Homo sapiens: one gene and its partners. The protein of the gene in region 2 purifies or fractionates together with the protein of the main gene of each other region. This does not show direct contact. Each region holds a gene or a part of one and is shown on either strand. Other genes may lie near its edges. The genes, in order: RAB6B, SLC35B3, DSG2, TMEM59, RBM42, LRIG3 and WRNIP1.

Evidence for each region.
Region 1: the proteins of SLC35B3 (region 2) and RAB6B purify together in Homo sapiens (affinity purification with mass spectrometry; one large-scale study listed by BioGRID and IntAct). This does not show direct contact.
Region 3: the proteins of SLC35B3 (region 2) and DSG2 purify together in Homo sapiens (affinity purification with mass spectrometry; one large-scale study listed by BioGRID and IntAct). This does not show direct contact.
Region 4: the proteins of SLC35B3 (region 2) and TMEM59 purify together in Homo sapiens (affinity purification with mass spectrometry; one large-scale study listed by BioGRID and IntAct). This does not show direct contact.
Region 5: the proteins of SLC35B3 (region 2) and RBM42 purify together in Homo sapiens (affinity purification with mass spectrometry; one large-scale study listed by BioGRID and IntAct). This does not show direct contact.
Region 6: the proteins of SLC35B3 (region 2) and LRIG3 purify together in Homo sapiens (affinity purification with mass spectrometry; one large-scale study listed by BioGRID and IntAct). This does not show direct contact.
Region 7: the proteins of SLC35B3 (region 2) and WRNIP1 purify together in Homo sapiens (affinity purification with mass spectrometry; one large-scale study listed by BioGRID and IntAct). This does not show direct contact.

Annotation. Positions count from the first base shown.
Region 1 is NC_000003.12:133,836,883-133,840,382, forward strand, and holds part of RAB6B (ras-related protein Rab-6B), read right to left. Parts: intron 2,736-3,500; coding exon 2,624-2,735; intron 1,378-2,623; coding exon 1,284-1,377; intron 1-1,283. UniProt on the Homo sapiens protein: The small GTPases Rab are key regulators of intracellular membrane trafficking, from the formation of transport vesicles to their fusion with membranes. Rabs cycle between active GTP-bound and inactive GDP-bound states.
Region 2 is NC_000006.12:8,429,046-8,432,545, reverse strand, and holds part of SLC35B3 (adenosine 3'-phospho 5'-phosphosulfate transporter 2), read left to right. Parts: intron 1-271; exon of another isoform or gene 272-339; intron 340-2,388; coding exon of another isoform or gene 2,389-2,481; coding exon 2,482-2,682; intron 2,683-3,500. UniProt on the Homo sapiens protein: Probably functions as a 3'-phosphoadenylyl sulfate:adenosine 3',5'-bisphosphate antiporter at the Golgi membranes.
Region 3 is NC_000018.10:31,515,177-31,518,676, reverse strand, and holds part of DSG2 (desmoglein-2 preproprotein), read right to left. Parts: intron 439-3,500; coding exon 403-438; intron 1-402.
Region 4 is NC_000001.11:54,050,405-54,054,464, forward strand, and holds the start of TMEM59 (transmembrane protein 59 isoform 2 precursor), read right to left. Parts: upstream 2,801-4,060; 5' UTR 2,785-2,800; coding exon 2,596-2,784; intron 1-2,595. Other genes in the region: TCEANC2 (transcription elongation factor A N-terminal and central domain-containing protein 2), read left to right, coding at 4,019-4,060.
Region 5 is NC_000019.10:35,635,111-35,638,185, reverse strand, and holds the end of RBM42 (RNA-binding protein 42), read right to left. Parts: intron 1,029-3,075; coding exon 834-1,028; intron 745-833; coding exon 632-744; 3' UTR 501-631; downstream 1-500. UniProt on the Homo sapiens protein: Binds (via the RRM domain) to the 3'-untranslated region (UTR) of CDKN1A mRNA.
Region 6 is NC_000012.12:58,882,505-58,886,004, forward strand, and holds part of LRIG3 (leucine-rich repeats and immunoglobulin-like domains protein 3 isoform 2 precursor), read right to left. Parts: intron 3,399-3,500; coding exon 3,327-3,398; intron 1,088-3,326; coding exon 1,016-1,087; intron 529-1,015; coding exon 365-528; intron 1-364. UniProt on the Homo sapiens protein: May play a role in craniofacial and inner ear morphogenesis during embryonic development. May act within the otic vesicle epithelium to control formation of the lateral semicircular canal in the inner ear, possibly by restricting the expression of NTN1.
Region 7 is NC_000006.12:2,771,893-2,775,392, forward strand, and holds part of WRNIP1 (ATPase WRNIP1), read left to right. Parts: intron 1-1,045; coding exon of another isoform or gene 1,046-1,106; exon of another isoform or gene 1,107-1,159; intron 1,160-3,500. UniProt on the Homo sapiens protein: Functions as a modulator of initiation or reinitiation events during DNA polymerase delta-mediated DNA synthesis. In the presence of ATP, stimulation of DNA polymerase delta-mediated DNA synthesis is decreased.

The DNA of each region.
Region 1 (3,500 bases), on a different chromosome or scaffold from region 2:
CTTCTTGTCTCTTCTTGTCGTTCTGCCAGCCCACCTTCCCCACTGCCACCAGCACTGTCCACACAGGGCAAACCATCACTGCATCCAGAAGGCCAGTGCTGTATACACAGCTTGCCAAGGGTTCCCAGCAATGCTGGGGTGGCAGGGCAGAAGCGACCGCCAGGCCAACCACACTCCTCACCCAGAGTCCCCTCCCCATACCTCGGGCACCCTGCAGCCACACCTTTGCTGCTCCCCTGCTTGGCATGCCCTCCCTCCTCACCACCTCTCCAAGTCCTTCTCATCCCCAACGGCAGGAGTTCTTAACCCTTCCGTGAGCCAAGGACCCCTCTGGCAATCTGGTTAATCCTATGGACTCCTTTGAAGTATGTGAAATCAATTACATAGGATGATAAAGGGGACTACTGAGTACTGAAATAAAACTTCATCGACATTTGTGCTTCCTTATGAAACACATTGAACAGCGAGAACTAGCAAGAGATCTAATAAGTAGTGTGATGCTGAAACACTGATAGATGTGAAGTTCAAGATACCTGCAACACTATGAGGTGATGGGAAGGCATCTGTGATTTCTATTGGTGGTAAAGCCATAGGCACTGCTAATGTGACTGAGTGTCATTGCCTACATTCATCATTGAAGGACAAATCAGACGTCCTTCAGTGCTACGGACGGGTCAGTGGTTAGTGAAGATAAAGGTGCAATGTTTTCCAGCCCTGTCTGCTGACCTGCTAAATTCCACCCATGGACTACTCAGGGGCCCTCATGCTGCAAGGCTCAGCCCTAACTCCACTGCCTCGCCCTCCTGTGAGTTCCAACCACATCATGGTAGGCTCTTTCCCCCAGGCCTGAGTTGCCCTCCACAGCCCTGAGCACTTGCTAAGCGCAAGGCATGAACCCCAAATGCTGATCAGATTGAATTTTCCTGCACCTGTCATCCAAAGTGGGGTGAGGGGCTAGGGAACCACTGCTTCCCTCAGCCTCCTGGAAGCTGGTGGCTGGACACTCTTAGGGCCTGCTACGTGGGCCGTGACTGGCAACTACTACGGTGGCTGGTGACTTATGTTCTCCAGATGCCATGCCCGGAGTGGTCCCTCCCTCTTTTGGGCTTTACCAGCTCCGGAAATTAGCTCTCCCCTCCCTGGGCGCATCTATGGGTGTTCTGGTTGGCTGCCCCAATCCCATCACCAGCCCTTCAGGGCAAGGCAGCTCTGAGCCTGCAGCTGACCACAGGGCTACACCGTGCCGGGCCCCGTGCCGGGCCCCGTGCCAGGTGTGTCCTCACCTGCTTCACGTTGTAGCCAGTCTTCGCACTGGTCTCAATGAACATGACGCTCAGTTCTTTGGCGCGCTGCTCCCCCTCCTCGATGGTTATCTGCCTAGAGATGAGGGGAAGGGGGGAAATCAGCTCAGCAGAGAAGCAGACCCTGGCAGATATGAGGAGGGACCCACCCAGCAGGGCAGAGGGAGCCCACTGGGCCCTTGGTCAGTCCTGAAGACAGGCTCTGATCCCAAGGGTCCCTCCCGGGCACCAACCACAGTCTCGCTAGCACAAAGCAGGCACCAGGGAACAGTAGGACACTATCCGCTTCCCCCACTCCTTCCTTTGTGTCTTCTCAGCTTCAAAGCAGGCCCTGGGGTAGGGCTGCCCCATACCTGCCTTTCCCAGTAGTCACTACTGCAGAGCCTGTGCTTATGAAGAGATTCAAGCCAGGCAGTGCCACTCTGGGTGGTATTATCAGTCGCATTTTCCCTGTGAGAACACTAATGCTAAAAGTGTCTCCCCCAGGGCCACAAAGCTACTTAGCAGAGAGGGCTCCATGATGGGGCAGGCAGAAGTGGGTGAGGGTATGAAGGGCCTGGGTACCCTTTGTACTGGGATTTGAGCCCAGTTTTCCTTACTTTAAGGACAGAACTCTAGTAAAGCAGGCTCTAATTCAGATGATTCCTCAGGTGGTCAAGGGACGCTGCAGGAAGCCCACACTGCTTGCTGGAGTCCATGGCCTGTCACTTTATCTGCCCAAGTCAGGGTCATGTAAAATGAGTGGACAATGTACACACATGGCACCTCAGTTCTCCCTGTGCATGGAGGGCAGCATGGAGGAGCCTCTTCAGAGAAAGCTTCATGCCAGACGCAGCCACAAACCAGGCTAAGCAGGCTACGGCCATAGGTTTGTGGTCTGAATGCTCTGCATGCTCACACCTAGGGCCCAGGGCATTCACAGCCCCACGCACATTGGTGCAGACACTTCACAGGCACAGACAGTTCACAGTGCACACGCTGGGGCCTAGAGGACTGCTGTGTCTGGGGCAGGGCTGTGGCCATGGCAGGGCCTTAGACCATGCACTGCTGGGTCAAGCCAGGTGCACAGTGCTCTGTGTAGACAGCAAACGGAGAAGTGCCCCGCCCCTGCCTGGTGGTGGAAGACAGGGCTTCACAGATGAGATACCCATGGATGAGAGTCTACCAGGTGTCCTCAAAGCTCCTAGTGTCTCAAGGGACCTTTTCCGGATGCATGGTCAGAAGCACAGACACACCACCCATGCATCCCAGAGCTCCCTGTCCAGGAGCAGTTACAGAGGAGTGGAGGGTGGCACCCTGCACCTGTGTGCCCTTGCACCTACCTCTTATCAGCCAGGTCCGTCTTGTTGCCCACCAGCATGATGATAACATCACTGCCCCTCTCTGTCCTGACGTCGTCGATCCACTTAGAGGTCTGTTGGAAGGAGTTGAGATCTGGAGGCAGAAAGTGAGGATAAACTGAAAGCCAGGGCCAGCCACCAGTGGGAGATGGGAAGGGGAGGTGTGAGCCAGGAGCAGGAGGGAGGGTGAGCATGTGCCCTCAGATACCCAGGGAGGGGTGTGAGCTCAGTCAACACAGATCAGCTGGGTAGGGCCTTTCAGAGGGAACCGGGCCCTGCCCTGCGGCCCTGGGGAGCCACTTGCACTGTTCAGCCACCCTTTGTGGGAGAGGAATCACCCCATCTGGAAGATCACAGTGTCATGATTTGCCACATGGAATAGTGGCTTTAGGGGCCCACCTGAGAGACCTGACTCTGGGGATTCAGAGTGGAGAGTGAGAACTGGGTCACACGTGTGTGTGCATACACACACACACACACACATGCGCGCGCGACTTGGCAAGTTTGGGAACAGTGAGGGTGGGCAGAGGAGGACACAGCAGCCTCTAGGGAAGGAAGGGCCCTACTGAGTGGTGTCCCCACCATGGGAGCTCAGGAGAGTTTGGGGAAGGCCAGAGGGGTTTCTGAAGAGAACCCTCAGGCTCTGCAGATGAGAGGAGGGGAAAGGTGGCCCCGGGACTAGTCAGGGGAGCCAGGTGCACTCAAAAATCCAGGAGAGACAAGGCCACTTCTGGGCAGCCTGACCCCCCTCAGCTGCCATGATAGGCCTTGCAGGGCAGAGCAGCTATAAGGCAATACCCACCACTCGGCAGCCTGCACACCCAAGGGGAGGGGAGGTAGCTGTCCTCAGAAGCCTCAG
Region 2 (3,500 bases):
ATTCCAAAGCATGGGGAAAGCATTATGCTATACTGCTTTCTTATACTATTACCTATAATTGTATTGAGTCATTACAATATGCTTGGCAGTTTACTAAATTACAAACATCTCAGAAGAAGGTGACTTTGGGAAAGCGTGACCTTCTGGAGAAATGTTTTGATGCCAATAAAAGCAGGAAAGAAAGATATTTTCTAGAAGTTTTATTTATTCTGTATGTATGTGTAAATATGTAAGCATTATTTGTAAATTTTCCCCACTCTTTTTCTATAAGATTTTCAGTTTTGCTCATAAAGTTTGCCAGTACCACCATCCATTTCAAAAATCGTATCCAAGCAGAAGGTGAGTGATTGCAAGCTGAAGTTTGAGGGTATCAAGAGGAAGGATCAGTTTATTTGGTTCATCTGAATATCAGGTCAGAGTATATGCCAGGTACCAAGGACACAGAGACAAATAAGATTTGAATCTTGCCTTTCAAGTTCTCTTTTCTAATAACTGGGGGGATTAGTGATGGTGTCACAAAGGAGGGGATATTAAAGCTGAACTTCCAAACCTGACCTTGAGAAAGAAGACCTCAGGCTGAAAGGACATCATGAACAGAAGGCAGCGGTGTTTTAAAGTCCCTGGTGTATTTCAGGAATGAAACATGGGTGGTTTAGGGCTTTATTGAGAGTGGAGGGAGAGCAAACTTAGAAACCTATGTAAGGCCGGGTTTATTTGAATGGTGCACTATATCCATGCTCACACATAGAAAAGAGTAAATTGTTAAGGTTTTCGTCTCTTCTACATTCAAGCACAGGTTTGACCAAATATTTAGGAGAGATAATTTAAAGCATGGTTTTAAAAGAAAGTCACATCTCAAAGATACCCTGCAAGATTACATAAAAAGTCTTACAAATGACAGTGATTGAAACATAATGTGGGAAGCAAGAACAAAGGAAAGTGAAGAATAAACAAGAGGAACACAGTAAACTTCATGAAACAACTTTTCTATTTAGAAATAAGGCAGGTGCCCTATAAAATGTTGTGGTGGCTGCATATTTTTAGTTACAAGTGGTATTCAGATCCTTGACCCCTCCTTTAATTCCTAAGGATGACCTGGTTAACCTCTGTAAATTAGCAAACTAGAAGTGATCATGAAGAGGCGACTCTAATTTTGGCCATTTTAAGCCATCTTGTAACAGTTTAAAAAAACATTACCAAAGGAAAACTCACTGTCAAAATTATTCTTATTTCTCTTCGTGCCGCAGAGTTTAAATTTTTGTTCCCACTGGAATTAAAAACAGATGAGTCGTTTCTAAGAAAATAACTTTTTCTTTTACATAGGTTTATTCTATACTTTGTCATAATTCTTCAGTCTTTCCTCAGTCTTTACATGGAGTTCATTTTTTCAGTTTATATAAATCCAAAGAGAAATTGATGGCTTCATAATTTTTTTTAGACTGACAAAAAATGACATGTTTTCTCCAGCCTTTTACATCCCAGAAGAATGTAAATTAAAATGATTTGTTCCAGAGGAAGAAAACATTTTTTAACCTAAGAGATGCTACTGCTGAAGCATATTGTGCTTTCTGTAGTCTCTGATAAATCTAGCTTTTTAAGGACCTTAGGTTTGGGGTTTCTTTGTTTTGTTTTTTTCATTTATTTTCTAGAGACAGGGTCTGGCTCTGTCGCCCAGGCTGGAGTGCAGGGGTGCAATCATAGATTACTGCAGCCTCAAACTCCTGGACTCAAGTGATCATCCTGCCTCAGCCTCCCAAGTAGCTAGGACTACAGGCATGCACCACCATGTCCAGCTAATTTTTTTATTTTATTTTATTTTATTTTATTTGGTAGAGAGAGGGTCTTGCTATGTTGCCCAGGCTGGTCTTGAACTCCTGGTCTCAAGCAACCTCTCTGCTTCAGCCTCCCAAAATGTTGGGATTACAGGCATGAGCCACCACACCTGGCCTTCATTTTTTTAGTTTATTTTTTAAATGTCATTAGCAAATATATCTTAGAATTGTCTTAGTATTTAAAGGAGAATTACTTATTTTTTACTCCTCTACAAGTGAAGATTGACTTTAATGTTGAGAATGTTATGCATCAACTATATATAGACACAAAGACATGTTTAGTTCTTTGATGAAATAACTAGCTTTTGTTGCTGTGGAAATAAGTATGGTTTATATTCAGTTTAATGATGTACTAATCTTTATCAGCTGTAGACAAATTGTTTAAAGATTGTAGGCATATTGTTTTTGGTGATTTGGAACCTAGAATACAGGAATTAATATACTAATATCCAGAGAGAAGCAGACATTTGTATAACTTTAAAGTATGATTTGGAATATTATTTGGAGGATTAAACTTTATCATGTAAATGTTTTAATTGCTTATTTCCTTCTCTAGGACTTGACACAGCAAGCAAAAGACATACAGAACATAACAGTCCAGGAAACCAACAAAAATAACTCTGAAAGCATTGAATGCAGCAAAATAACAATGGATCTCAAGTTCAACAATTCCAGGAAATATATTTCTATCACTGTGCCATCCAAAACCCAAACAATGTCACCACACATCAAGTCAGTTGACGACGTTGTGGTACTTGGCATGAATCTCAGCAAGTTTAACAAACTTACTCAGTTTTTCATATGTGTTGCTGGAGTTTTTGTATTTTACCTAATTTATGGGTATTTACAGGTAAAAAAGTTATATGTTTGTAATATGTTAATTATTTATAATAATTGCGGTCAGTATGGGCATTTACTAGTTTTGCCCAAGATAGTCACTTAGGGGATACTGGCTGATTCATAAATTTGAATTTTTTAGTATAGAGTAGAAAAGAGCTTCTTAACAGATCAAAATTCAAGAGTTAAATAATTTAAGTGGGGAGGAGGCATATGTAGAGACTATCTTGAAAAATTTTCATTATGAAAATTAAGTTTTAAATATTTAACAAAATGTGTGCTTCCAAGAGAAAGCAATGATTCACGTATTGATTGGTATCTTGGAATATTATTGAATGATAGTGCAGTTTACTTGATTCTTGGAGCTCAATAATAAAAGATCATTTTTGCAAAAATGTATCAGGATATTTTATGGTTTTCTAAAGGTATCTCTTTAATCCTATAATATTTGAATTATTTCTTTTTTAAACACCTCTTATATTCTCATTCTTATTGGTTTTGTCTTCTAACTTTGCCAGAATCTTATTGTTCTGTGATTTTTTGCTGGCACAAAACATTTCTGATACTGCAACAATTTGTCTTATATTTACATTATATTTGGAAAAGTTATATACCTTTGGCTAGGAGCAGATTTCTGACCTTCAAAGACATGGGCTGGATGGGTGAGGATCCAGGCTAGTGAAAACAGGATGTTGGAATGGGTTCTAATTTTATGAATGGTCATTTAATTAGTGGATATTTTCCCATAACTTGAGAAAACCTTTGTAATTCAAGGAAAGGAAAATGATGTATTTTCTTAAAACACAGATATTTCCAGTATTCTTTAGTACT
Region 3 (3,500 bases), on a different chromosome or scaffold from region 2:
ATACCTCACAAAGTATTCATTAACAGCTTGATTAATATCTTTTATGATTTTTCATAACTATACAGTTGCACATATATACACAGATGCATAAAGGTCTTTTTGCTATAAAAATGGACTTACACTATATATCTTATTTTGCCCCGATTTTCATTCAGCACCTCGTCATGGACATTCTTTCATGTACCATAAATGGTTTTAACATTCACCTATTGGTGGATATTTACATTGTCAAAAACTGCTGCACTGAATACCCCTGGATAAGCTCCTCTGCACTTGTTTGAATGGGAATGGCTGGGTCTAATACAACATGTGTCTTCAATCTAGTAAAGCCCAGTCAACCTGTTTGCCATGGAATTAACCCTCCTGAGTCAGAAGGCAGAAATAATCCCTTTGTTTCCTCACCTGTAAGTGAAGTCCACTTCCAACGTTAAAGCAGATCTGTAAAATAAAATTATTTGATATTTAGCCAATTTACTGCTCAATTCAGTGTGAAAACATTGTTCATGAATAACCTACTGCATTGAATATTATAGACATAAAAAAAGTTTAACCACTACTACTATTCTTTGTCAAGAGGAAACTAATTTTTCCCATTGCCTTCCCTAATGGGAAGTGCCCGAGGAGAAATCTATATTCTCCTGGATCCATACTGACTCCTCCAGAAAACAGTATCTTAAAAAACAAACAAAATAATCTGCCTTGTGAAATCTTAGACATTCTCTCATCCTTTACTCCGCATCCTATGGTTTTTATCTTGTGTTCTCCAGGACCTGCTTACTTTTCCTCGAGGCCACCAGTATGTAATGTACCCCACACCCAGCTAACTCCCACCATCCCTATGGATGTGTGTGCATTATACACACACAAAAAAACACACACCACACACACACGGACAGCCCATGTTCTGACTTCTCGGTTCCTCAGCATCCTCAGTCCCACCAACTCTTTTCTTTGGTTCTTCATAGGCACTGTCACACTTGGGACTTCATCATGACCTAGTACTGTTCTAAATACAGTTATGCTTACTCTTAAATTTGCCCAAAAAACTCCCATCTTGCTTTCTGAATATTTTGCACTGTAAAATAATAATTTTAAAAATTGATGCATTAAAGATGTGCATAGTTTTGGAATACATGTGATAATTTAATACATTCATATAATTTGTAAAGATAATTAGTATACTTGGGATGTCAATTACCTTAAATACTTGTCTTTTCATTATGCTAGAAACATTTAAATAATTCTCTTCTAGCTGCTTTGATATGTATAATAGGTTATTGTAAACTATAGTCACCCTGCTGATCTATCGAACTAGTGTACTTATTTCTAACTAGTGGTCTTATTTCTTCTATCAAACCATATATTTGTACCCATTAATCAATTCTTTTCTTCCCCCACCTCCCCACTACCTTTCCCAGTTTCTGGATTCTATCATTCTATTCTCGATGCCCATGAGATCAAAACTTTTAGCTCCCACATATAAGTGAGAAGATGTTGTATTTGTATTTCTGTGCCTGGCTTATTCAGTTAACATAATGACCTCCACTTCCAGCCATGTTGTTTTGCTGCAAATGGCAGGATTTCCTTATAGTTCATTAATCTCCCTGCTGGCTTCCTTCTTCTCTTGGCTCAATCTGAACCAGCACTTTCTAATATGGTAGCTACTTGTGGCTATTTGGATTTTAACCGCAATTATTTGAAATGAATAATCCAGTTGCTCCACAGCCACATGTGCTAAGGGCTACCCATTTGGACAGGGCAGACAGAAAACATTTCCACCGCTGCACACAGTTCTACCGGAGCAGCTAGCAGACTGCTGCCTGCCACTCTGAAGATGTTGTCAGTGACCACCAGGGAGGCTTCATTTTCATGACTGCTATTCCTGCCTCACTTTTCCTCTCAACTCTAGAAACCTATTATTCTCTTTAGTTCTGACCATGTACTGGCAATATCGCTAGAGGAGGCCACAGTGGCTGAATAGATCCCTTACACATTCATGCTCTCAAATAGCTGCTCTTTCCATGGGGTGGCGGTTCCTTTCTAGTGTGACCATATGTCTGCATTTGCTCAGAAGAGTCTAGGTTGACACCTGCTGTGAGGCATTCCATCTGTTAACAACCCTTTCATCCTCAAAAGTGTGCTCACACTATAAATTATATCGTCACTTTGTCATTGCCTTACCCTTATTGCATTTCTAAAATAGGCATTCCAAACTTTAGGAGATGACTCTAGTCACACCTCTGTACCTATTCACTCTTATGAGATGACCCCATGTATTATTTGACTGAGACTATCTTCAGTCATCCTCTCCTTCCCTTCTTTCCCCACAGAAGAGGTGTCCTGACTCCTTTCCAAGGCAAACCATCGTTTGTGTGCTTTATTTGCAACTCTATTTGTTCTCCCACATTTATCTTCAAGAACCTTAATCCTTCCACTAACCTTTTATCTTCCTTCTCCATTGGCTAATCAATACATTTATTTCCTTCTGATTGGCAAACCAAATATATTTAGGTTTTCCTTATCTTAAAAAAAAAACCAGATCCCTCTCTTGTTTCTGTTAACAATCTATTGCTCTATATCCCTCTCTTACTTATAATTCCAAATTGAAATTATTGTCTATATGTATTGCTCCCACTACTCCACCTTCCATTTATGCATTAATTCACTGGACTCTGTCTTTGGTGTAGCTTTTCTCAGTTGTTTGCCTTTTCCCATCTGCATGGTCACATGGATCCACAAAGCCCTAGTTGGTACATCATGGGAAACAAGGCATTCCCTAAAATTTCAAAGTCTCTTTCACATCCTTTGCATTCATTTGAAAGCTTCCTGTAGGGTCCATTCCACAAGTGAATCTTTCAGCCTCTTTCTTTCCTTTCCATTGTCAGTTCATGTTCTTGGCTCTCCATTCCAAAGAGAAACTCAAGGAGAGCAGATGTTCAGCTTCTAGTGTGGGCTTCTCTGGGGCAGATGAACAATCATGGCTAATTCTCTATTTTATGATCAGATCTATGATCTCTTCTTCATTCTGTCTACTATTAACTTGCCCAGCTAGCAATGGCCAGAGATGTCTCTAACCAAAGTGGTGCTCCCCAAATTTATGTATTTTCAAAGGTGGCATGGTATGAAAAGCAAGGGAAAGCAATGCTGAGATAGATCACTTCTCTCTGCATGTTCCTTGGGTGGGAATTTTTGAAGAGAAAGATCAGTGCCTGGATCAGAGAGGTCCCAGTGTCCACATCATCAGGGAACAGCCTTAAAATTTAGTATATTTAGGCCGGGTACAGTGGCTCACACCTGTAATCCCAGCACTTAGGGAGGCCGAGGCAGGCGGATCATGAGGTCTGATGATCGAGACCATCCTGGCTAACACGGTAAAACCCTGTCTCTACTAAAAATACAAAAAAATATTAGCTGCCCGTGGTGGTGGGTGCCTGTAGTCCCAGCTACTCGAGAGGCTGAGGCAGGAGAATGGCGTGAACCCGGGAGGCAGAGTTTGCAGT
Region 4 (4,060 bases), on a different chromosome or scaffold from region 2:
GAGCCACCGCGCCCAGCCTAAAACGAGATTTCTATCTCGTTTTTCAAACGCTATGTGAGTTTGAAAATTCATCTAATTTCTTACAATACACAGTGCTTTTTCCTGGAGCACAAAGCACAGAGGAGAGCCAATAGAAATCAGTGACATAATTAAATATGTTTCTTTTTTTTTTTTTTGATGCAGAGTTTCCCTCTTGTCGCCCAGGCTGGAGTGCGGTGGCGCGGGCTCACTGCAACCTCTGTCTCCCGGGTTCAGGCGCTTCTCCTGCCTCAGCCTCCTGAGTAGCTGGGATTACAGGCGCCCGCCACCACGACTGGCTAAATTTTTTTGTATTTTTAGTAGAGACAGGGTTTCACCATGTTGGCCAGGCTGGTCTTGAACTCCTGACCTGAGGTGATCCACCCGCCTCAGCTTCCCAAAGTGCTGGGATTACAGGAGTGAGCCACCGCGCCCGGCATTTTTTTATTTTTATTTTTTTGAGACACGGTCTCATTCTCAGACTGGCGTGCACTGGCGACATTTCGGCTCACTGCGACCTGCGCCTCCCAGGCTCAAGCAAGCCTCCCACCGAGTAGCTGGGACTACAGGTGCTCGTCTCCATGCCTGGCTAGTTTTTTTGTTTTTCTTTTTTCCAGAGACGGGGTCTTGCCATGTTGTCCAGGCTGGTCTCAATCTCCTGAGCTGAGGTGATCCACCCACCTCGGCCTCCCAAAGTGCTGGGATTACAAGCGTGAGCCATCGCACCCGGCCGAATATGTTTAATGCAAGTTTATTAATAGGAGGCAGCATAGTGTAGCCAGTTTTAAGCTGAATTCCTGCTCCACTATTTCTTGGGTATGTGACCTTAGGCAAGTCACTTAACCTTTCAGAGCCTCAATTTCCTTAATTTTAAAACCCTACTTTACAGGGTTGTTGTGAGAATTAGGGATAATGGTATGATAAATCTCCCATCACTCTGGCTAACAGTGGAGTCTATATAAATTTCAAGTCCAGGACCTATAGGGAGCCAGATGATTTGGAGTTCTTTGTGAGAAAAGCTTTAATAAATAAGTAAAAATAGTTTATAGATATAACACCAATTGTTAGAAAATAGTGGACATTATTAAAGTACCTACAACTTCCAGGAAGGTATCCTTTCAAATTATTTGATTATTTTCCCAACATTCTGGTTTATACCACAAAATTGCCGAGAAAATCCCAAAAAAGGAAACAAACCCTAGAACAATAGAAAGTAAGTCTCAACCCAATTCCAGGCCAAATCAATATTAATGAGCTTCTTCATACAATCCTCTTAATGATGAGAAGTTTACAAGAGGTGGAGAAAAATAACGTGGTTAGAAGCAGTATTCATTGATTTAAGTCTGAAGTTAAAACTTCTCACTTCTTTCTCGATTGTTACATAAATCTCTGGAAAAATTTAGTACAGTCCCTTCTCCCACACTTTTTTTTGAAAATTGATAATCTCCATGCAGTTTAAAATCCAGCCGTAACAAAATCTGAGAAGTGCCGGCACTTAGAACTTTTCATTTCAAAGACCTGAAAATACTCGCCAATATGGAACATCCTAAGCTTCACTGGAACTGTCTCCGTAGCCACTCCAGTTTTAGAGAGCAAGGAGGTCCAGCCACAATGGTTAAGCAAATAGCATAGAGGAGATGAAGGAAAAACGAAGAGGAAACCACCAGCAACATCAACAAAAGCTCTCATAAAACAACGTGGGGGAGGGCATATACTCAAATCATACATGGGAAAGGTGTGGTGGGAATCATCAAGCAATTTAGAATGTTGAGTAAACAGAGTTCTTAGGCTGAAAAACCAACGTGAAGAGGGTTAGGTATGTAATTAAAAGAAAGGGGGGAAGCATAGAGAGGAGGGCCATTCCTCTCTGTAAGCTGCGAACCCCCTCCTGTCCACAGTCTCATTTCTTCACCCACTCCACGAATTCCCCGTTTTCTGCACTGAGTGGTCAGTTTCTGGTAGGCAGACACCTAATTGCCTCTTCTCTAACCCAGTCCCTCTTGGCAGCGTCTTGGACACAGTAACTCAACATAGGCAGACAGCATTCCTGAGCGTCTCGCTACTCCCTGAGCTGCCTTCGTGACGCTTTTTATACCACAGTGGAATCGTCTACTTGTCTGACTCCCCGAAGACTGCGCTCCTGGCCCCGAGAGGCGCTTAGTAAACAAGGGTTATCAATCAATCATTTGTGGACTCGCGTATCTGCGCCTCCCTTTCTACAATCCCCCCTTACGCTCCCTTAGGTGAGGACCCCGCATTAATCATCCATATCCTCCCCTATCCTCCTCCGAGTGCTCGACTCCCCTGCAGCCCGGCAAGCTCCCAGAGGAAAGGGATCGCGTCTTTCTCATCTTTGTGTCCCCCAGCCTATCACAGGGTAGTGCAGGACAAACTTCCGGTAATGACAGCAGAAATGGGGTGCAGGCAGGATTAGGGAGGAAAACAGGAGCTACACAGATGGGAGACAGCGATTGAAGGGCCGATTTAACAGCCAGGTTGCCAGAGCCGACATACGTGTGGGGAGCCGAGAAATGGGCTGCAAGGGAAGGGTCGCAGCCCGCTCCGGACGGGCCCTACCTTAGGGTAGGTGTGCAAGGGGTAGGTCAACTGACAGGCCCGGTGGCAAGACGCCGTATCACCCAAGACCGAGTCAAATGCTTCAGCCGAAGCGGTCCCCGAACCTCCGGCCAAGGCCATGGTCAGCAGCAGCAGCGGCGGGAGCCCCAGTTGGGTCCTCACCCAGAGGCTCCCCTTCGGCGCCGCCATCTTGTTCCCCTCTGTCACAGCAGCTCAGCTTGTTGCTGTTTTCTCGGAAGGGTTTCCTCCTCCTCCTGGGGCCAGCCCCCTTCTCCGCCCCACCGACCGTTGCTTCCGCCTCCGCTGTCACTTCAGCTCCGCCCTCACCCGCCAGAAACTGCCGCCTCCTGCCTCACCTCTGGGACTACGAACTTCTTCTCCTAGGCTGGCGTGAGGAGGGGAATTCAACCATCGCAAGCGTTAGCGCGAAGCGGGGCCTCCTGACTTCTTCCCTTCGCGGGGCAGGCTGGGGCATGTAGTTCTCCGTAGGCGGGAGGCGCACGGTGCTGTCGGGAAAGTTGGTCTCGGAAAACTACAGCCGCCCTCAGCGCGCCTTCCGCCCGCATTTCTTCGCAGTGCATTCTGGGGAATGTGGTTCGCTGTGGCCCAGAGGCGCGAGGGCCGGCGGAGTTTCTTCAGAGGAACTACCGCCCTGGGAGGAAGCGTCTGTTTAGTTTCAACACAGACGACTGGGCTTGGGAGCCTACGAGGTTGCAGTCTGGAGGGCGCCAACAGCAGCTACCAGGGCTGCTTTTCCTGGTGGGTCTCACGTCAGACCGTTGTTGGGTGCCCCTACCCGGGCTCCTGAGTGCTGGGAACGAGGAGGATGGGGTTTCTCCTTGTTCGGGGATCCAGAGATTACAGCCGTGGGTAGGGTCCTCTGACCACCGAGCAGTTTGTTCTAGGGGATGCTGCGTATTGTGAGACCCTCTGCTGAGTTCTGGAGGTGGTTGTCGGTTGCTGATTACCAGGGCAACCCTTGGGATTATGGCTGTGGTGAGGTGGTTGTTAAGAGGGCGTCACTGAGCCTAATGTAATCCTAACCCTTTCACAGCCCAATCTTATTTGGAAGAGGGCTTAGGTGCACGCTCTAGCGGGGATTCCAATATTGGGCCAATTCCCCCAATGTTGGAATCCTCGCTAGAGCGTGCACTTCTGGAAGCTAGGAACCTCCTAACTCAGGACGTAGACTGATGATTGATTACAGTTTCAATTCTTCGGAAGATCTTTCTTTTAAAGAGAAAATCTTACTTCCTGTCAATTCCACTCGAGGCCCCATAATTCATGAATTCTTCCAGAGAACTCAATTGTGTTACTTTGGGGAAAAAATATCATGGCAGTCTTTAGTGGGGTTTTAGAATCTGCCCTCTTTCTTGACCAGAACACGCTGCAAGCACGTCAAGGTAGTCGGAGTCCCCTAACAATGGATAAATTCGTCATTCGAACGCCTAGAATCCAGAATAGC
Region 5 (3,075 bases), on a different chromosome or scaffold from region 2:
CCTCACCCACAGGTCAGCGCCCCCATCCTGCCCTGACCACTCTGGGCTCTTATCGTCAGGGCACCGGGCCTATTTTCTGCACTGGACCTTGAGCTCTAACGGTGCAGGGCCCAGGACTTTTAGTCACCATTGTGTCCTCAAGCACTGTTCAGACCCTTGGTGAGAGTCTGCTGGATGGAAGAGGGCCTAGAAGCCTGTGAGCTCCAGAAGGGAAGGGCCTAGATCTCCTACCTTGGTGCTGAGAACACAGGAAGTAGCCAGGACACGGGGATGGGCCTCAGCTTGGCTTCACCCTTGCCATTGGCCCCCCTTTCTCCTCTGGAATAAGCAGCACTCAGCATGTGTGGAAGAGGTTTGAAGAGGGAATGGGTGCGCAGGAAGGGCTCAGAAGCCCCCGCCTGGGTGTTTGCCTGGGTAAACTCTCAAGGCTCCCCGCCATTTCCAGCTGTGGGGAAGCCAAGCCCTGCTCCCCACAGCGTGCTTCCATGCCCAGCCAGGGGTGGAAATGAACGTAAATTTATTGAAACTGGTTTTGGGGCAGGGGATGGGTGGACAGCTGGGGGTTTTCCAAAGAGAACTGAGGGAGGAGCCAGCGCCCGGCCAGGTGGGAGCGGGTGCCTGGCCACAGACCCTATCTCAGGCCCAGCTTCTTCTTTTCCTTCTGCTTCTTGCGGACCACGTCCAGATTCCGGTCCTTCCACATGCTCTTGCGAAGCTTGATGGGGCGCGAGCCCACATACTTCCCTGTGGAGACAGAGGGTTCAAGGCAGGCTCGGGTCAGGCTTAGGCCAGCGCCTGCCGCGCCTGCAGTTCCCAGGGGAGGCCGCACCCACCATTCATCTCACGCATGGCGCGCACGTAGTCGCTGGGGTCCTTGAAGCTGACGAAGCCGTAGCCCTTGGTCTTGCCTGTGCGCTTGTCACGGATCACCTTGGCCTTAAGGAAGGATGGGAAGCGGCTGAAGGCGCGTGCCAAGATGTCATCGTTCACCTCATTGCCCAGATCCCCACAGAAGATCCGGAAGTCATCTGGGGATGGGGAAGAGATGACATCAGAGGATGCAGAGGCCTTGCCCAGTGTCTACCTTGTCTGAACGATCCCACCTTTTCGGAGGTATCTAGTCTCTGCCTAGGGACCTCTTAGTAATAATGGTCAACACCTACTGACCCTGCGCCAGGAGCTCTGCTGGCACCTGGAGGGGTGTTTCCATTTCTGGCACTCCCAACCATGCTTTTACACTGAGGCACAGAGAGGTGAAGTCACTGCCCACAGTGACACAAGCAGGAAGCGGCAGAGCTAAGACAAGAGCTCAGGCATCTGGCTCCAGTCCTTACTTTTAACCTTGAACTGCACTGCCCTCCCCACCCCAGGGCCACCTCACTCATTCCTGTAGTAACACCCTTAACTCTGCCCTAGCCCTGGCCTTTCCTCTGAGCCTTGGTGTCCCTTGGTCCCCTGGACCCCTGTCACCCACTGGCTGCCCGTCATGGCACCTCAGGAACATGGGCTTCATCTTTCCTCAGCCCTGCTTCCTTGGCAAGGCCTGCCCTAACTCCCCCTTGAGACCTGGACATGCTGCCTGCTCCTCCGCCATGGCTGCACCCAGCTGACATTCTCATGCTGCCTCTGAGTTGGGCCTGTGCTTCCACTGAACATGCTCTGTCCCAATGAATCCCTGTCCCCACAAGGGAGGGGATGAGGAATATGAGGCTTAAAAGGCTAAGTGAGCCAAGCACAGTGGCTCACGCCTGTGATCCCAGCACTTTGGGAGGCTGAGGCAGGTGGATGACTTGAGCTCAAGAGTTCAAGACCAGCCTGACCAACATGGTGAAACTCCATCTCTACTAAACAATACAAAAATTAGCTGGGTGTGGTGGTGGGTGCCTGTAATCCCAGCTACTCGGAAGGCTGAGGTGGGAGAATTGCTTCAACCCAGGAGGCGGAGGCTGCAGTGAGCCAAGATTACACCACTGCACTCCAACCTGGGTGACAGTGCGAGACTCTGTCTCAAAAAAAAGAAAAAAAAAAAAAACAAAAGAAGAAACAAAACAAAACCAGGCTAAGTGACTTGCCCAAGGTCACAGAGCTAGGGTCTTCTCTGGGCCAGGTAGACGGTCCCAGGAGAGGGGGTGGAAGTCAAACACTGAAGCAGGAGGGGTCCATCTCCTTCCTCAGCCATTGCACGGCTGCCCCATGGCGTCTGTGATATGGGACACTCTAAGCACAAGTTAGGCAATGCCAGGAGCAAACAACCGGACAAACTCAGAAGGTGGGACATCATACATGACAACTGCCCTGGACACTTCAAAAAATATGTACAAAACAAAGAGGCAGGAAAGAGACCGTTCTTATTAAGATATAATCGAGGCTGGGCGTGGTGGCTTATGCCTGTAATCCCAGCACTTTGGAAGGCTGAGGCAGGCGGATCACAAGGTCAGGAGTTCGAGACCAGCCTGGCCAGCATGGTGAAACCCCGTCTCTACTAAAAATACCAAAAATTAGCCAAGCATGGTCGTGCGCGCCTGTAGTCCCAGCTATTCGGGAGGCTGAGGCAGGAGAATTACTTGACCCTGGCAGGTGGAGGTTGCAGTGAGCTGCCGAGATTGCGCCACTGCACTCCAGCCTGGGCGATGGAGCAAGACTCCGTTTCAAAAAAAAAAAAGAAAAAAAAAAAGATATAATTGAAGGACATAAAACTGCATGCATGCTGGTTCAGGGCAAAAACATTAATAGTTCTAACAGAGTTTTGGGACACCTAGGGAAATACGAATATAAACTGAAAAGAAGATACCGAATTAGTTAATGTTCTTAGACTTGATAATAGTATTATGATATGCAAAAAGTATCTCTTTTCTTTTTTTTTTTTTTTTTGAGATGGAGTCTTGTTCTGTTGCCAGGCTAGAGTGCAGTGGCCTGATCTCGGCTCACTGCAACCTCTGCCTCCTGGGTTCAGGCGATACTCCTGTCTCAGCCAACCGAGTAGCTGGGATTATAGGTGCCTCCCACCAAGCCTGGCTAATTTTTTTGTATTTTTAGAGACACGGGATTTCACCATGTTGGCCAGGCTGGTCTTGA
Region 6 (3,500 bases), on a different chromosome or scaffold from region 2:
AAGCCTCAGAGTTGGGAAGAGAAGAAAGGAGAGTCCCCATTTCATGGATGCAGAGACTAATATTTAGGGAATTTAAGTTAAGTAGAAGGGCTGAGATTACCCTTCCATTCTCCCAAGATCCAATTTCATTCTCATTCCACCGCACCATCCTGATGCCAAAACAAAGATGAAGCAATTTTAGAAAACTCTCTTTCCCATCTGTGAAATTAAAATAATCAGCAAACTATAGACCCATTTTCCTCTACCTCAGCAGAAATAAAAGCTTTATAAAGAGATCATAAATCTATTCAAAACCATTATTTGGATAAATGGGAGGGGGAAAAAAGAAGAATAAATAAAAGGCAAGGGCAATACTTATACTCACCACACACAAAGCCATCTGGGCTAACAGCAAAAATGCTTCTTCCTTTTAGCAGCTGAGGATGGGCACAACTGGCATTTACAAAGCTCTGAAAGTTGTTTTCCGCCACCCACTGTGGGAGCCATTTTAGCTGGCAATCGCACAAAAGGCTTGATGTATTTAAATGCCTGAGGAGAGTAATTACATTCAATTTGTTCTGTATGAAATGCAGATTTCTACAAGTAAACTAAACCCAAGTAAATATTAACAAAGCAATGAATTTGGAAACTGAATACACACATCCCATGGAATAAGTATCCCACAGTCCATTTTAAAATACAAGAAATGTATCTAGCATGATTTTCTGTTGTTCTTACTGTCCTACTGAGACAGAAGTGTTGATTTATCAAAAGTTCCTTACAACTGAAAAAATTACTACTATATTGGGTGACTGTACTATATTTGGTCCCACAAAGTTGCGAATTTAAAATAGAAAGAAAAACTCATTTCAACAAAAAGAACAAATAAACTCCTTTTCTGTTGCCTAGTATAAAAATTAAGTAATGTTAAGAATGTGCCAGGCACTTTTTATAGATACATAATCCAGGATGCCACACCATATGACAGTTTTCCCCTCTATACTTTCAGACTCCTAGAAGGAAAAGAAAAGCTTACAATTGTTGCAGTTTCTTCATTTGTGAAAATGCATTGCCTTGTAAAGACATGATTGCGTTGTCACTCAGGTCTCTGAAAAATCACCAAATCAAATGCATCAGAGCAAACTACCATCATTTCGTGCTTTTGGACAAAGTTTGGGCCCCCACTGCCCACCCCATTTGCCAAACAAATACTCCCTCTATGTGTCAAATACATGACTGGGGCAGCCCCAGAAGAATCCACTGCAAAGCTTGTGCTGAAGACCCAGGGCATTTGTATCACAGATAGGTTTTGTTTTAGTGAAAAAGATTCACTTTCTGTCATCACTTAAAGATTATTTGACTCATTAGGGCCCATGCTGTTCTATTATTTCATTCTATTACTCTTTATTCAAATTAGCAACTATTGGAAACTTCTAAATATACAAATAAAATATACAAATAAAAAATAAAAATAATTATGCTTTTATAAAACATTTACACAGTATTTTTGAAGATATGCACTCAGTTAAGTGATTTACAAGTGTTACTGCATTTATTCCTACAACAACCCAAAATATGATGGTATTACTACTTAGCTCAGCACGAAAGGGGAAGGTAAGGGTTGAAACAATTATTTTCAATTCCAAAACCTGTGCTTTTAACCATTAACCTAATTCTGTCACCCACAGCTCACTAACATAAACGCAGTAAGATGTTCAGACAAGATATACTTGTTAAAACCAATACTTCAGGCAGGAAATTCATAAAATGAGCACATATTCTGGATTAATTCTCTTTATACAGAGACTTATAAGCACTCTGCATTAAAGTATTCACCACAATGATTACCACTCTGTTTTTCTTTACAGGGGTCACAGTATACAAAGGGAATATTGAGTGAGACAAGTGGGAAGAGAAGACAAAGAAAGAAGGGACCAGACATGGCTAGACGAAGAGGCTGGGGCAATCAAGGAAGATTTAAGAAAACTGAAGCAGAGATTAATACTCCACTGATCCACTAATTCCACGTTCCCAGAAACGGAATGGGCCAAATGACAAACCCTTTTGGCTAGTTTTCTTTTCAAAATAATCGGTTTCAATAAATACTGCAATGTTGGTCTGCCCTTCCAAAACTCAGCTTTGCAGAATCATTCTACTATAATTTGAACTGCCGCACTCACTGTCTGGGTGGCTCACGATCCAAGTCTCCCTCAGAGGAACTGGTGCAGTCAGAAGGTGACAACACAGTGGTTTACAGATAACAGCTAAATCTTCACTCTCAATACACAGCACACATAGGAGAACCCAATATGTATTTTAAATTGTAACTTCTTTTGTCCTGGTTAATACATATTAAAACTTCTGGATACAAGCATTCCTTAACAGTCAGAGTCGATATTATACATTACTTTGTACTTTTACTGTACAAGCGTAAAACATACATCCATGGTTATAAGCAGCTGGTTGGTTCCCTTAGTTAAAACATGCAAGTTTTGATTCCTATCAATGTTAGCTAGCTTTCCTCTCTTAGTGGCTGAAAATTCCTGAGCCCCTAAATGACATTTCAGAAATGTGTGCCAGGAGTTACTAGGAGCTACTGGGAGTAGCGGCAGAGATTGTACAGGCAAGAGCTAGTGTGATGCAGGGACACTGTGCAAGTCGGGGCAGCTCTGGGTTGCGTCCTGCTTCTGACAGCTACTAACTGGTGGGTCAAGACGAAACAAAAGAAAACAACAAAAAAGAGAACAATGGTAAGGGGGGGTTGTATGTTTCATAATTAAACAACAATAAGAGACCAACAATTCTCAAAGTAGTGCTAAAACTCTCCTATGTCACTCTTAAGGATTGTGGAACATTGTCTTTGTTCTTTAAAAGCCAAGTCATCTCCTTTAACTGTCCAGTGGAATCAATAAACTCTTAGAACCTCCGCTTAACAATAAAGATAATAATAGCTATTGAATTGTATTCTGACTAAGAATTAAATGAGAATATATGTGAATATGTGGTACAATGCCTGATATATAGTGGATGAACTACACCTAGTAGTTTGTTTTTTTTTTAATTAAATAATCACTGTTTGAGAAAAACAATTAAAAACCCATTAAGGAGATATAGCTTTTGTTCTTAAATACAAAGGAAAGCATACACCTGTATACTTCTATATAGGTAGGTAGGTAAGTAGGTAGACAGAGAAAGAAATAGAAAGATAGGGAGATGTTTAAATATATTTTATGGAACCGGAAGGATGCCAACAAAATTACATTCCAGTTTGTTTTATCTTTCATGACACATAAGTAAAAACCATCTTAGAGATTCTCTTTTAGGGTAACTAAATTCTAGCTACTCACAGATGCTCCAATGCATCCAAACCAGTGAAGGCTTTTTTAGTAATAGAACGGATCCGATTTCCTTGGAGTATCCTGGGGAAAAAAATTACATTGGAGCACTTAATTTAAAAAGCCATTTTGGGGTGGAACTCTCATAAACAGAACTGCTTTTTAAATTATGTGTGAGCAATTCCA
Region 7 (3,500 bases), 5.7 Mb from region 2:
GGTTATCGTAATGTATCTGCAACTTAATATTCTGCATGTGTACTTGTCTGGGGTGATTTTTATTGATTTCATGTCATCAGTTCATGAAATAGAACATGAAATCAATAATTAATATTGATGACATGAAGTCAATAATAATCAGTTGTTACTCAGATACCCTCAGGTTTTTTCACCTCTCCCCAGTCACTGCCGTGCAGGAATTTAAAGGAAATGAGAAAGGCGGCAGCCAAGGAGCTCATCCTTGTGAGAAGAATTTCTATATTTTATTATTAAAAATCCTCAGGTGATTTGCAGGCACATTAAAGTTTGAGAAGATCAAGTGAAATAATTAAGATTTAGTTATTGAAACTGATATAACAATGAGCTAGAGATTGTTTATCTGCTAAAATTGCTTTTCAGAGAAAACTTCCCATATCCAGTAAATGATTTACTATTTCCACTACCGCTTGCTTAGACTTGATCCCAATTATATTTGCTATCTTGTGTCCCCCGCTTTCCTGGGAAGACTGTGAGGACAGGAGCTTGTCCCTGTTCATATCCCCAGCACAGTGCCTGGCACACATTATGTGCTTTGTGAATGGTTTGGAAATGAATAAATCCTAGCTTTCGATATGAGAAAAGTAGTTTAATATGTTTTGCATTATCCAGCATAAGGGATAATTACCCAGGTATCAAGAGCCTTTTTCTTTAATACTATTGCCCTTTTCATCAGCAGCAAGCAGAGTAAAATGAAAGAATGTTAAGCTTAAAACCATTAATTGGTCAACTTGTTAGCAATTCTAACAAGAAGTTAAGTTAGGAGATATCATAGGCCACAGAAAGAACTCTTACAAGTGATTTCCGAATACAAGTACCTGCCACCCCAACTGTCAGGGATAATTAAGAGTGGATTGGGATGTCTTTTAGTTGTTTTAGGTAAAATTTTGCTTTCCAATCCCTGTTGACAGCTCTATATACATCCTTGTGCATATAAATCAGATTTGGTGACACTAATCTAGTTGAAAGAAAAGACTTCCAACCCCATATACTTACTTTCTCTCTCCAGGAAGCTATTGGTGTGCATTTGTATTCTTGTGTCATGTTTTGGTGCCCTAGATAGCAACTAGAACATTTACAGAGAAGTCCCAGGCTGTTGAACTGCACGTGAGAGGAGGTGAGCAGGGCACTGGATTTGGAAACTAATCAAGCTGCCGCTTAGCCGTTCTTGATTGCACTTGAGGAATTGTGAGTTGTCACACAGTATACTCATGTAAGTGATAAATTCCCATTAAAGTGAAATAAGTGTTCTTTTTTTAAAAAAAAATTCCCTCCTGTAGTTATTATTCAGTCAAAATTGAAGCTCCTGCATATGCTAGGCATTGGCTGAGGGTTGAAAAGCTTGTTCCTGTGCCTTCAGAGGGAGCGCAGTATGATGAAGGCTAGGGGAGCAGGTCCACTTCCAGTGCCACGCTTATACGCCAAGTGCAGTGGGCGTAGAGAAGCAGCATTCAGAATATGTGAAATCCAGTATTTCACCTCCTAGATGAGGGGATGCGGAGTTGAGTTTTGAAGGATAAGCAGAATTTAACTGAGTGAAATAGAAAGCTCATTGTCTACGCCATAGTTGCTTTGGTTTGTATGGCTAAGCAGTAGTGTTCAGGTATTTTGCTCTCCCAAAAATATTTGGATCACATGATACAAACAGTGAAGATTCTGTCTGCTCTGGGTTAATTTTGGAGGCCAGGAAAAAAATGTCCATGATTCATGATACGAAGAATGAGCTTGTGCTGCTGAAAATGAAAAAGTAAGCTAGCATTTCGTCATCCTGCACTACTTGCTGCTTTGAAGGAATATAGATTCCTAGGTCATAGAATATATACATAGTCAAAAACACTCCTAAAGAATCAATTATTTGTGAACCAGATAGAGTATACAAGTCTTTGGAGATCAAGAGAGTGAAATGAGAAGCCATAACTGCCCTCTGCCTAGCTAGGCTGAGTTCCGAGAGGTGGTTGGAAGACAGAAAGTGGCGTCTGTCCCTGGGTAAGGGCTGTGGCGTAACTGGGTGTGGGGCTTTTCTCTAATCATCTGGAGAGGAGAGCCCCTGACAAGCTGGCCCCCAAACAAGGTGGCTATGGATTCTTCTTTTTATAAAAGTTTAAAGTGTCTTAAATAACCTTTTGTGCCATTGAATAGAAAGAAAGGTAGTGGAACTCCAGAATACAAGGGATTGGCCAGAATAAATGGTTGGTATAGAGTAGATGTCAATCTTTTTATTTAAAAATTTTTTAAGTACATTAATACAGTACATTAACATAGCTGTTTTAATACAAGGGTGCATTAAAATAATGCCATAAAAGCACCAGCAGCCAGAACCACAGATCTCATGGTCCTTGGATGCACTTCCTGTGGCTGCTGTAACAATTGCCACAAACTGGGTGGCTCAGAACACAGAGCTTTATCCTCACAGTTCTGAAAGCCAGAAGACCAGAATCAAGGTATCAACAAGGCGATGCTCTCATCCAGCATCTGATGGCCCTTGGCATTCCTTGGCTTATGACTATGTCACTCCAGTCTCTACATCCATCTTCACATGGTGGCCTTCTTCTCTGTGTCCTTACGTCTTCTCTTTTTCTGTGTTTTGTAAGGACATTTGTCATTGGATTTAAGGTACACTCTAAATCCAGGATGATTTCATCTTGAGACCCTTAGTTACATCTACAAAGACCCTATTTCCAAATAAAGTCACAGTCACAGGTTCCAGGGATTAGGACTTACATCTTTTGGGGTCACTATTCAACCCACTACAGACCCCTACCAAGTATAATGTAATTTGGAAAGACATGTGCCTCCATGGGATTAAACAGAAAGACGTCGTCATCTGAAATGTACCTTCTCTCTTTGTGGAGAAAGTCAGTTTTGTTTTGCTTTGCTTTCACTCTGATGTTATGGAAGCGGCAGCATCTGGGGCTCTGCCTTGGATATGTGCAGTTCTGGAGAGTATGCTGTTGCACAGTCTGATGAGGGTGATTCTCCTCGCTGTTGATACCAAAGCAGTATTTGTCGAGTCTCATGACATGGCAGGCACTGCTCTAAGCATTCCACATGTCTTAATCTCATTCAGTCCTCAATACAGCTCTGCAAAGTAGATCTCATTACCTCCTATTTACTAGATGAGGAAACTGAGGCACAAAAAGGTTAAGTAACATGCCCAAGACCAACCAGCTTCAATGTGATGGAGCCAGTGTTTAAGGCATGTCTCTGTCTTCTCAGTGACTTCAAGTGCTACAAGGGGTGGAGGTGCCAAGTTTACAGAGGATGGACCCACTGCTCGGTTTTTCTGTTCTGACTTTTCTCTCTTGGCACTTCTTTGTGTAAGAGCAGCAGGAGAGCCTTTTAACCAGATCTGCACATCACACTTCCCTGGGATACATTTTAGAAACATGCCTTGCCCAGGGTCTGCCCCTGGAGATTTGAGCTCAGTCTATGGTAGGTAAGGTACATGTGGCTGTATTTGTGTC